4 separate regions of the Homo sapiens genome follow, and regions 1, 3 and 4 are each linked to region 2. Evidence: fine-mapped expression QTL. A gene starts in region 2. Each other region holds a variant in brackets. All regions are shown on one strand. Distances are between the middles of the regions. Region 1 has its middle 13 kb from the start of KRTCAP2. Region 2 holds the start of GBA1 (glucosylceramidase beta 1). Region 3 overlaps MUC1 (mucin 1, cell surface associated). Region 4 overlaps HCN3 (hyperpolarization activated cyclic nucleotide gated potassium channel 3).

The links.
Region 1: its variant is fine-mapped to the expression of GBA1 in whole blood (TOPMed, PIP above 0.99).
Region 3: its variant is fine-mapped to the expression of GBA1 in whole blood (TOPMed, PIP 0.99).
Region 4: its variant is fine-mapped to the expression of GBA1 in blood mononuclear cells (TOPMed, PIP 0.97).

What each region holds. Positions count from the first base shown.
Region 1 is chr1:155,158,787-155,161,470 of GRCh38, forward strand. No RefSeq gene overlaps it. Among named protein-coding and RNA genes, the nearest start is that of KRTCAP2, 13 kb to the right of the region's middle. The variant C/T (reference allele first, on the strand shown) is at 1,486.
Region 2 is chr1:155,239,528-155,242,192 of GRCh38, forward strand. It overlaps GBA1 (glucosylceramidase beta 1), which reads right to left and starts at 1,722. Exons shown (of 11, transcript NM_000157.4): 1 at 1,559-1,722; 2 at 1,103-1,190; 3 at 359-550; 4 at 89-235. The coding sequence starts at 1,585.
Region 3 is chr1:155,186,502-155,189,185 of GRCh38, forward strand. MUC1 (mucin 1, cell surface associated) reads right to left here. Exons shown (of 12, transcript NM_001371720.2): 7 at 1,662-2,433; 8 at 1,507-1,562; 9 at 1,221-1,357; 10 at 954-1,075; 11 at 724-873. Among named protein-coding and RNA genes, the nearest start is that of MUC1, 5.1 kb to the right of the region's middle. The variant C/T (reference allele first, on the strand shown) is at 1,293.
Region 4 is chr1:155,280,354-155,283,023 of GRCh38, forward strand. HCN3 (hyperpolarization activated cyclic nucleotide gated potassium channel 3) reads left to right here. Exons shown (of 8, transcript NM_020897.3): 2 at 2,058-2,487. Among named protein-coding and RNA genes, the nearest start is that of HCN3, 4.2 kb to the left of the region's middle. The variant T/C (reference allele first, on the strand shown) is at 1,106.

The DNA.
Region 1 (2,684 bases), 81 kb before region 2:
GTGGCTCACACCTGTAATCCCAGCACTTTGGGAGGCCGAGGCAGGTGGATCACGAGGTCAGGAGATTGATACCATCCTGGCTAACATGGTGAAACCCCGTCTCTACTAAAAATACAAAAAATTAGCGGGGCGTGGTGGCAGGCACCTGTAGTCCCATCTACTTGGGAGGCTGAGGCAGGAGAACGGTGTGAACCAAGTTGGTCCCTGAGTAGTGGCCCCACCCCTTAGAGGGGTGGGCAGCCCCCCTTGTATGCCTGTCAGGCAGTAGGGATTTCTGGATGTCCACAGGTGTCAAGGTAATTACTAGGTCCTTGGGGAAGGTTTCAGGTAGTCAGGTTGTGTTGACTTCATCCCTGCCCTCAGGGCACCCACAGTTCCATAGGGCAACAGGACAAAAGCACATGCAATTAACAAAAACACAGACAAACTTTTAAAAGGGGAGTAGTGGAGAAGGGGCTGGGTGAGTCAGGGTTTCCTAGAGAAGGTAAGCTACAAGAGACGAAGATGGGAAAATATGATAGCCTGAAGGTGGACAGACTCAGGAACAGGTCTGAGCAGCTGAGAAAAACATCTGGATCATTCTGAGGATTCAGCAATTTGGAGTTGATGCAGGGTAGAAGTTGAGTTTCAACAAAGGGCTCAAAGTACAAGAGTGGTGTGTTGCCAATGGGGTTCTTGGTTCTTCTTCTTTTTTTTTTTTTTTTGAGACAGAGTTTTGCTCTTGTTGCCCAGGCTGTAGTACAATGGCGCGATCTCGGCTCACCACAAACTCCACCTCCCAGGTTCAAGTGATTCTCCTGCCTCAGCCCCCCGAGTAGCTGGGATTATAGGCAAGTGCCAACACACCCAGCTAATTTTGTATTTTTAGTAGAGATGGGGTTTCTCCGTGTTGGTCAGTCTGGTCTTGATCTCCCAACCTCAGCTGATCTGCCCGCCTCAGCCTCCCAAAGTGCTGGGATTACAGACGTGAGCCACGGCACCTGGCCCTTGGTTCTTCTTTTAATAAACATTTGTTGAACACCTACTCTATGCCAAACAGCATTCTAGTGGACAAAATAGACAAATTCTCTGCCTTCAATGAACCTTATACTCTAGTGATGGGAGACAGACAAGACAAAAATAAACATTTAATATACCAACTAAACCTGCCCAGTGGCTCATACCTGTAATCCCAGCACTTTGGGAGCCCAAGGCAGGAGGATCACTTGAGGCCGGAGTTCAAGGTCAGCCTGGGCAACATAGACCTCATCTCTACTAAAAATAAAAATAACATATATTCACCAAGTAGTGAAAAGTACTATGAAGAAAAGTATAGCAAGGTAAGGGGCTAGAAGGTGACAGGCTGTACTGTGTCATATAGCACGATCAGAAAGGCCTGTCTGAGAAGGAGACATTTGCACAGAGACCTGAATGACATACAGAAGAGAGAAGTGTAGATATCTGCTGAGAAAGCGTTTCAGGCACAGGAACAGCAAGTGCAAAGGC[C/T]GCGAGGTGGAAACGTGCCTGGCACAGGGGACATGCAGGGTCTGGGGGCAGGATGGAGTGAGTGTGGGGAAGAGAGCAAGGAGGCGACATCAGAGAGGTGGCAGGAGCCAGATGGTGTGTTGTAACCATGCACTGTAGTCATGCTGGTTAAGCAACATGGTGGGCACAGATGGATCTGAATGTGAACTCCAATTCCGCCTTCATTTATCGGTTGTGTATAATCTTGAGCAGATTAGCCTTTCTTTCATTTAACCCCATTTCATTTTACTGAAACAGGGTGTATTAGTCAAGGGTTCTCCAGATGATCAGAACCAATAGGGTGTGTGTGTGTGTGTGTGTGTGTGTGTGTGTGATCCTGGTGCTGCCCCTCAGGAACTCTCTCTCTTTCCATGTGTATGTATATGGCAAGAGAAAGAGAGGGAGAGGCACAGTGGCTCACTCCTGTAATCTCAGCACTTTGGGAGGCCGAGGTGGGAGGATCACTTGAGCCCAGGAGTTTGAGACCAGCCTGGGTAACATAGCAAGACTCCGTCTCTACAAAAAAATAAAAAATAAAAAATTAGCTGGGCCTGGTGGTGCTTGCCTGTAGTCTCAGCTAGTCGGGAGGCTGAGATGAGAAGATCACTTGAGCTCAGAAGTGTGAGGCTGCATGACCTATAACAGTGCCACTGCATTCAAACCTAAGTGAGAGTGAGACCCCATCTCTGCCAAAAAAAAAAAAGGAATTGTTTCACACCATTATGGAGGCTGGTAAATCCAAGATCTGCAGGGTTGTGGGCAGACTGAAGACCCAGAGAAGAGTCAAGGTTCAGTTCAAGTCTCAATGCTACGTGCTTCTAAACTCCCTCTTGCTCAGGGAAGGTCAGTCGTTTGTTCTGTTTGAACCTTCAACTGACTGGATGAGACCCAATCACATCATGGATGGAGGGCAATCTGCTTTACCTAAACCCTACCAATTTAAATATTTAAATACTAATCTTTCACTCTCTCTCTCTCTTTTTTTTTTTTTTGAGACAGAGTCTTGCTCTGATGCCCAGGCTGGAGTGCAGTGACACAATCTCAGCTCGCTGCAACCTCCGCCTCCCCAGTTCAAGTGATTCTCCTGCCTCAGCCTCCCAAGTGGCTAGGATTACAGGCCTGCGACACCATGCCTGGCTAATTTTTTTTTTTTTTTTTTTGAGACGGAGTCTTGCTCTGTC
Region 2 (2,665 bases):
AGATTCTGCCTCAAAAAAATTTTAAAAAAAGAAAAGAAAAACGAAAAGTTTCAATGGCTCTATGTCATCTTGTCCCCTTCCTCCTCACCTTCTTCAGAGAAGTACGATTTAAGTAGCAAATTTTGGGCAGGGGGTGACAGGGCAAGGATGTTGAGAGCAGCAGCATCTGTCATGGCCCCTCCAAATCCCTTCACTTTCTGGAACTTCTGTTCTGGCTGCAGGGTCAGTAGCAGGCCTGAGGACATCCACAGGGAATAAGGGTATCAGTACCCAGCGGGAAACTCCATGGTGATCACTGACACCATTTACCTCTAGGAGGACCCAGCCTGGCCCAGGGGGTGAGGGGTGTAATGGTTACCTGTGCCCGTGTGATTAGCCTGGATGGGCCCCATACTCAGCTCCATCCGTCGCCCACTGCGTGTACTCTCATAGCGGCTGAAGGTACCAAGGGCAGGAAAGGTCGGGGGGTCAAAGGAGTCACAGTATGTGGCATTGCAGACACACACCACCGAGCTGTAGCCGAAGCTTTTAGGGATGCAGGGGCGGGCACCTGGGAGGGAGGGAGTACAAGCAGAGTGAGGTCTGATGAAGACATGGAGAATGGACACATCTGCTAGGAGAGACTGAACACGGTTTCAAAATTCCTCACCCCTTGGCCGGGCGCAGGGGCTCACACCTGTAATCCTAGCACTTTAGGAGGCCGAGGTGGGCGGATCACCTGAGGTGAGGAGTTTGAGACCTGCCTTGCCAGCATGGTGAAACCCCGTCTCTACTAAAAATACAAAAATTAGCTGGGCGTAGTGGTGGCCGCCTGTAATCCCAGCTACCTGGGAAGCTGAAGCAAGAGAATCGCTTGAATCTGGGAGGCAGAGGTTGGAATGAGCCAAAATTGCACCACTGCACTCCAGCCCAGGCAACAGAGTAAGACTCTGTTTCAAAAGAAAAAAAACAAAATCCTCACCCCAAAGTTGGTCTCAGTCACTCAAAAGGATTTATTGAGCACCTACTAAAAGTCTACCACCAGCTTACTGGAAGGCTACCAAAGGACTATGAGGCAGAAGGGAGGCTCTGTGCTACCTCCCCACTGCCTTGACTCACTCACCTGATGCCCACGACACTGCCTGAAGTAGAAGCAATCCTGTGAGGCTGCCAGCCATGATGCTTACCCTACTCAAAGGCTTGGGACATTCCTGAGGACAGAATGAGGAATGACTGAAAAGCAAGCCCCTCTCCACCCCTCAACTACTCTCCTGGGCAGGGCTTAGCTGCCTTTGGGTGCCCATGGCCCGGTCTCCCACATTCATTAGGACAAGGCCCACAGAAACCTGGGTGCAGCTCTCCCTGCAACCCTTCTGATGACAACTCTCTGCCCACCCCAAATCAGGATGCTCCCCACCACTCTTCCCACCCATTTCAACTTCGACCCCTCCCTCCATCTGTGCCTTGCTCAAAGAGCCATGATGGCCCTGGATTCAAAGAGAGTCTGTCATTCATTAAATTCCAGTGCCAGGATTCCAGAAGCACTGTGACAATGCTGATTGGGAGCTCTCTCTCTTACCTCTCTGGAAGGACTTGAAAACTCCATCCCCTCAGGGTCATTAGATGAAGAGAAGACCACAGGGGTTCCAGAGTCTCTGAAGGATAGAGGATCCACTAAACAAAAACAAGGATGCAGGTACCTGCCTTAGCTATAGGCACTAGGTTAGCCCTGCAAGTAATTCCGGCTTCCCGATGTGGATGGGTCATGTGATGACTAGGAGCGTCACATGACACAGGAAGTGAGGCAATCACAGCCATATTTCTAAAGGGCAATTGGCTTCCTCTCATCTGTTACAGATTATATGCCCTATAAAACTCTGGAGGGCATGTATGGGTGACAACTTTAGGAAGAGCCTAGAACACAGATTTGCATGGAGAATGGGGTAGAGGCTCCTAAATCCCAGAGGATGGGAACCACAGCAGGCACACTTCTTTTTTGATAGAAATGTCAAAAAGGTACAAATAAAGCTGATATAATTTAAAAAAAAAAACTTCACTGTGCAAAATACTGACACTACCAAGATGTTTAAGACAGTCTTTGCCCTATAGAGGTGTGTGAGGCATGGAAGTCAGACACACAGATATTTACAGATAAAGACAGAAACGGTAACAGGTGTGCATGGAGAGCTCTCTGAGATGAGGAGGGACCATTCGTGGGTGGGGAATTATCCAGGATGGCTTCACAGAGGAAAAAGTGAGGGGGGTTATTAGCCAGTGAAGTGCAGGGCACAAGAGGGTGGGACACTGGCAGTGGGATGACAGGACTGGAGGGAGGGAGTGGTCAGTGCGGCTCCTCTGCAGCGTCCCTTGTTTCATCATCAGATGCAGATGGTAATAACTGTTCTTCCTTCCTCACAAGACAGGGAGGTTTGTAAAGTCGTTCAAAAACCAAAGTGTTGTACAAAGCCATATCCTCAGTGGACACAAGGAGGAAGCTGTCCATGGTGTGGCCTCATGAACCACATCAAATGAGATTTAGCGGGAGTGGCACACACAGTCATGACCTGACTAATCCCAGCTCTCAGCCCATTTCCTTGCCTGGAAAATGGAGGCAATGCCACAACCTCAAAGGGTGGTTACTGCAGTCAGTGAGGTAAGTGCAGTGCCTGACCACTTGGTAGGCACC
Region 3 (2,684 bases), 53 kb before region 2:
CGGGGTGTATCTGTGTCTTTGTAAAGCCGAGAGAGGGAGGTCTCCAGGAGGAGGAAAATAGGAGCAAGAAAACTAAACTCTCTCCTCCCCCACCTGGAGTGGTTTTCCAGCCTCAGGTGGCTGCAGTAATTATTTACTAGGTCCCATAGAGAAAGACCAGGAGAGGAAGGAGGGAGCGTTCCTTGCTTCCTTGAAGCTCCCAAGAACCCCACTGGCACCCACGCTCACCTGGTCTGCTGACACTTCTTCTTCTACCTGGGAAACCTCCCCCTATGCCAGCCTTTCTCGGTCTACCCTCCATTCCTAGGAGATGATTAGGGGCACAGAGGCTCACCCCTGGGACTCCTCGGGAAGGGCTCCCCTGGGCATAGTGCTCCACCCATTTTGCCTCTGGGTGCAAAAAAGCAAAACAAAACAAAACTGCCACGGTGGCACCAGTTCAGCCAGCGCCAGCCAGCATGAATGTGGACGGCCAATGATCTTTTAGGAATTCTGGCAGTGGGGCCACTCCCTCTTGAGGGCCCCTTTCTTCCATAGTCTCCTCCCAGGCCTGTCCCCCAAAACTCCTCTGACCTCTGCCCCTCATCCTTGCCAGGCCCTCCCCTGCTCACTTCACGCCACTTCTCACCTCTTCCAAGCTCTTTGGGTTTTCCAAGTACCCCCTTCAGAATCCTTGCCCAGCCAAACCCTCTGCTTCCCCTGGCCTGTGGGGCCCAATCTCACCTTCTCATAGGGGCTACGATCGGTACTGCTAGGGGGCACATAGCGCCCATGGGTGTGGTAGGTGGGGTACTCGCTCATAGGATGGTAGGTATCCCGGGCTGGAAAGATGTCCAGCTGCCCGTAGTTCTTTCGGCGGCACTGACAGACAGCCTGGGGAGATAGGAGGTTATGGCAGGCCATGGAGTGCCTTCTACCGGGGGGCTCTGATCAGGGCCAGGGACTGCACTCACCAAGGCAATGAGATAGACAATGGCCAGCGCAACCAGAACACAGACCAGCACCAGCAGCGCGATGCCCCAGCCTGGCACCCCAGCCCCAGACTGGGCAGAGAAAGGAAATGGCACATCACTCACTAAAAGGAAAAGCAGTGGTCAGGGCAGTCTCCCAGAGGAGGCGCCCCTCCCGCTGCCAGCACTAAGGAAAGAGCGGGGACCCAGACACTGGAAGGAGAGGGGCCCCGGCATGGTGCTGGGCTGCAGCCAGGGAAGTAGCCTCACCGCTGACGTCTGAGATCGTCAGGTTATATCGAGAGGCTGCTTCCGTTTTATACTGATTGAACTGTGTCTCCA[C/T]GTCGTGGACATTGATGGTACCTTCTCGGAAGGCCAGAGTCAATTGTACCACCACAGATCCTGGCCTGGTCACAGGGAAATGGGCACTTCAGCCACGGGTCCCAGCTCTGGCTCAGCACTCTTCCCCCAACCTTAAGTGCACCAGTCCCTCCCTACGGTCATGACCACCACCCACCCTCCAACCACCACACTGGGTCCACACCCAGAACTGTACCTGAACTTAATATTGGAGAGGCCCAGAAAACCCCCTTGTTTATAAATCTGCAAAAACTGGGGTGAGAGGGAAAGGACTCAGGCTTGATGCAAAGGGTGTGGACAGTTCTGATGGCTGCTTCAGGGGAGCATGGGGAAGGAAAGGCCGATACTCACCATTTCAGAAATGTCTCTCTGCAGCTCTTGGTAGTAGTCGGTGCTGGGATCTTCCAGAGAGGAATTAAACTGGAGGTTTGAAATGTGAAAAGACAGGAAAAAGAAAGAGACCCCAGTAGACAACTGGGGAGAAGTGCTGTGATTGGAGGAGGTGAGAGGAGGTACCGTGCTATGGTGAGTGCTACTGGCATCAGTCTTGGTGCTATGGCTGGCAAGGGTGGTAGGAGTATCAGAGTGGTGGCTGGGAATTGAGAATGGAGTGCTCTTGCTGGCTGGGGTTGTGGTAGCCCTGGCAGAGGTGCCGTTGTGCACCAGAGTAGAAGCTGAGCCTGATGCAGAGCCTGAGGCCGAGGTGACATTGTGGACTGGAGGGGCGGTGGAGCCCAAGGCGGGCCTGTTGTCCGGGGCCGAGGTGACACCATGGGCTGGGGGGGCGGTGGAGCCCGGGGCCGGCCTGGTGTCCGGGGCCGAGGTGACACCGTGGGCTGGGGGGGCGGTGGAGCCCGGGGCCGGGGTGGAGCCCGGGGCCCGCCTGGTGTCCGGGGCCGAGGTGACACCGTGGGCTGGGGGTGCGGTGGAGCCCGGGGCCGGCCTGGTGTCCGGGGCCGAGGTGACACCGTGGGCTGGGGGGGCGGTGGAGCCCGGGGCCGGCCTGGTGTCCGGGGCCGAGGTGACACCGTGGGCTGGGGGGGCGGTGGAGCCCGGTGCCGGCCTGGTGTCCGGGGCCGAGGTGACACCGTGGACTGGGGGGGCGGTGGAGCCCGGGGCCGGCCTGGTGTCCGGGGCCGAGGTGACACCGTGGGCTGGGGGGGCGGTGGAGCCCGGGGGCCGGCCTGGTGTCCGGTGCCGAGGTGACACCGTGGGCTGGGGGGGCGGTGGAGCCCGGAGCCGGTCTGTTGTCCGGGGCCGAGGTGACACCGTGTGCTGGAGTGTCGGTGGAGCCCGAGGCCGGCCTGGTGTCCGGGGCCGAGGTGACACTGTGAGCTGGGCTGCGGGCGCGGTGGAGCCCGGGGCCGGCCTGCT
Region 4 (2,670 bases), 41 kb after region 2:
CCCAGGTTCAAGCAATTCTCCTGCCTTGGCCTCCTGAATATCTGGGATTGGGATTACAGGTGCGCGCCACCACACCTGGCTAATTTTTTTTTTTTTTTTTTGAGACGGAGTCTCGCTCTGTCGCCCAGGCTGGAGTGCAGTGGCACAATCTCGGCTCACTGCAAGCTCCGCCTCCCGGGTTCACGCCATTCTCCTTCCTCAGCCTCCTGAGTAGCTGGGACTACGGGCGCCCGCCACCATGCCCAGCTAATTTTTTGTATTTTTTTAGTAGAGATGGGGTTTCACCGTGTTAGCCAGGATGGTCTCAATCTCCTGACCTTGTGATCTGCCCACCTTGGCCTCCCAAAGTGCTGGGATTACAGGCGTGAGCCACCACGCCCAGCTATTTTTTTTTTTTTTTTTTTTTTTTTTTTTTTTTGAGACAGAGTTTCACTCTTGTTGCCCAGGCTGGAGTGCAATGGCGCAATCTCGGCTCATGGCAACCTCCACCTCCCAGGTTCAAGCGATTCTCCTGCCTCAGCCTCCTGAGTAGCTGGGATCACAGGCATGTGCCACCACTCCCAGCTAATTTTGTATTTTTAGTAGAGATGAGGTTTCTCCATGTTGGTCAGGCTGGTCTCGAACTCCCAGCCTCAGGCGATCCGCCCACCTTGGCCTCTCAAAGTGCTGGGATTACAGATATGAGCCACCGCACCCAGCGCCTGGCTAATTTTTAATTTTTTTTTTTTTTTTTTTGAGATGGAGTCTCGCTCTGTCACCCAGGCTGGAGTACAGTGGCGTGATCTCTGTTCACTGCAGCCTCCGCCTCCCGGGTTCAAGTGATTCTCCTGCCTCAGCCTCCCGAGTAGCTGGGACTACAGGTGTGCACCACCATGCCCAGCTAATTTTTATATTTTTCGTACAGACGGGGTTTCACCATGTTGGCCAGGATGGTCTCGAGCTCTTGACCTTGTGATCTGCCCATCTTGGCCTCCCAAAGTGCTGGGATTACAGGCGTGAGCCACCACACCTGGCCTTCTTCTTTTTTTCTTTGAGGCAGAGTCTCACTGTTGTCACCCAGGTTGGAGAGCAGTGGTGCGATCTCGGCTCACTGCAACCTCTGCCT[T/C]CCGGGTTCATGCCATTCTCCTGCCTCAGCCTCCTGAGTAGCTGGGGTTACAGGCTCTCGCCACCATGCCCAGCTAATTTTTGTATTTTTTGTAGAGACGAGGTTTTGCCATGTTGGCCAGATTGGTCTCAAACTCCTGACCTCAGGTGATCCGCCAGTCTCAGCCTCCCAAAGTGCTGGGATTACAGGCATGAGTCACCAGGCCTGGCCTAATTTTTAACTTTTGTAGAGATAGGATCTTACTATGTTGCCCAGGCTGGTCTTGAACTCCTGGACTCAAGTGATCCCACTTTGGCCTCCCAAAGCGCTGGGATTACAGGCGTGAGCCATAGCTTTTCTTTTGAGACAGGGTCTCGCTCTGTCAGTCAGGCTGGAGTACACCTCAGCCTCCTGAGTAGCTGGGACTTTAGGTGTGCACCACCTGGCCTGGCTAATTTTTTTTATTTGTTGTTGAGATGAGGTCTCACTATGTTGCCCAGGCTGTTTCTTGCTTCTTTTGCTCAGCATTGCATTTGTGAAATTCATCCATAGGGCTGAATGTAGCTGTAGTTGGGTAATTTCACAGCTGTATGGTATGCCAGCCCATAAATAGTGTATTTATCTACTTATCTGTCTACATTTTTCTACACAAGGACATGTGTGTTGTTCTCAAATTTAATGCTGCTATAAACATTCCTATGTGTATCTCCTGGAGCGCATATTTTCCTTGGATGTGTCTATACGTAGGAATGGGATTGCTGAGTTGCAGGGAATGCAAATGTTTAACTTCACTAGATAATGCTGAACTATTTTCCCAAATGGTGGTCCCAACTTATACTCCCAACAGCTGTAAACAGTCATTCTGTTATTGTGTATCTTTGCCCATTCTTGGCCATGTCAGCCTATCTTCTGTCAGTCTAGTGGCTGGTGAAATATCCTCATGGTCTTACTCCTCATCTCACTCCCACCTTAGGTTTTACTGGGACCTGATCATGCTGCTGCTGATGGTGGGGAACCTCATCGTCCTGCCTGTGGGCATCACCTTCTTCAAGGAGGAGAACTCCCCGCCTTGGATCGTCTTCAACGTATTGTCTGATACTTTCTTCCTACTGGATCTGGTGCTCAACTTCCGAACGGGCATCGTGGTGGAGGAGGGTGCTGAGATCCTGCTGGCACCGCGGGCCATCCGCACGCGCTACCTGCGCACCTGGTTCCTGGTTGACCTCATCTCTTCTATCCCTGTGGATTACATCTTCCTAGTGGTGGAGCTGGAGCCACGGTTGGACGCTGAGGTCTACAAAACGGCACGGGCCCTACGCATCGTTCGCTTCACCAAGATCCTAAGCCTGCTGAGGCTGCTCCGCCTCTCCCGCCTCATCCGCTACATACACCAGTGGGAGGAGGTGGGGTGGGGAGATGGCGGGCGGGGCAGTGGGTGGGGGATGTTGGGGGAGAAGGGGGCGGGGCGGCTGGTGGACTTCTCTAGGAAGATGCTATGGGTGGGGCTCCTGGTGACCTTATAGTGTGGGGAAGATGGGTGGGGCTTCCGTGCGTGAGCTCTCTCCAAAACTGGTGGGGGAGAAGCA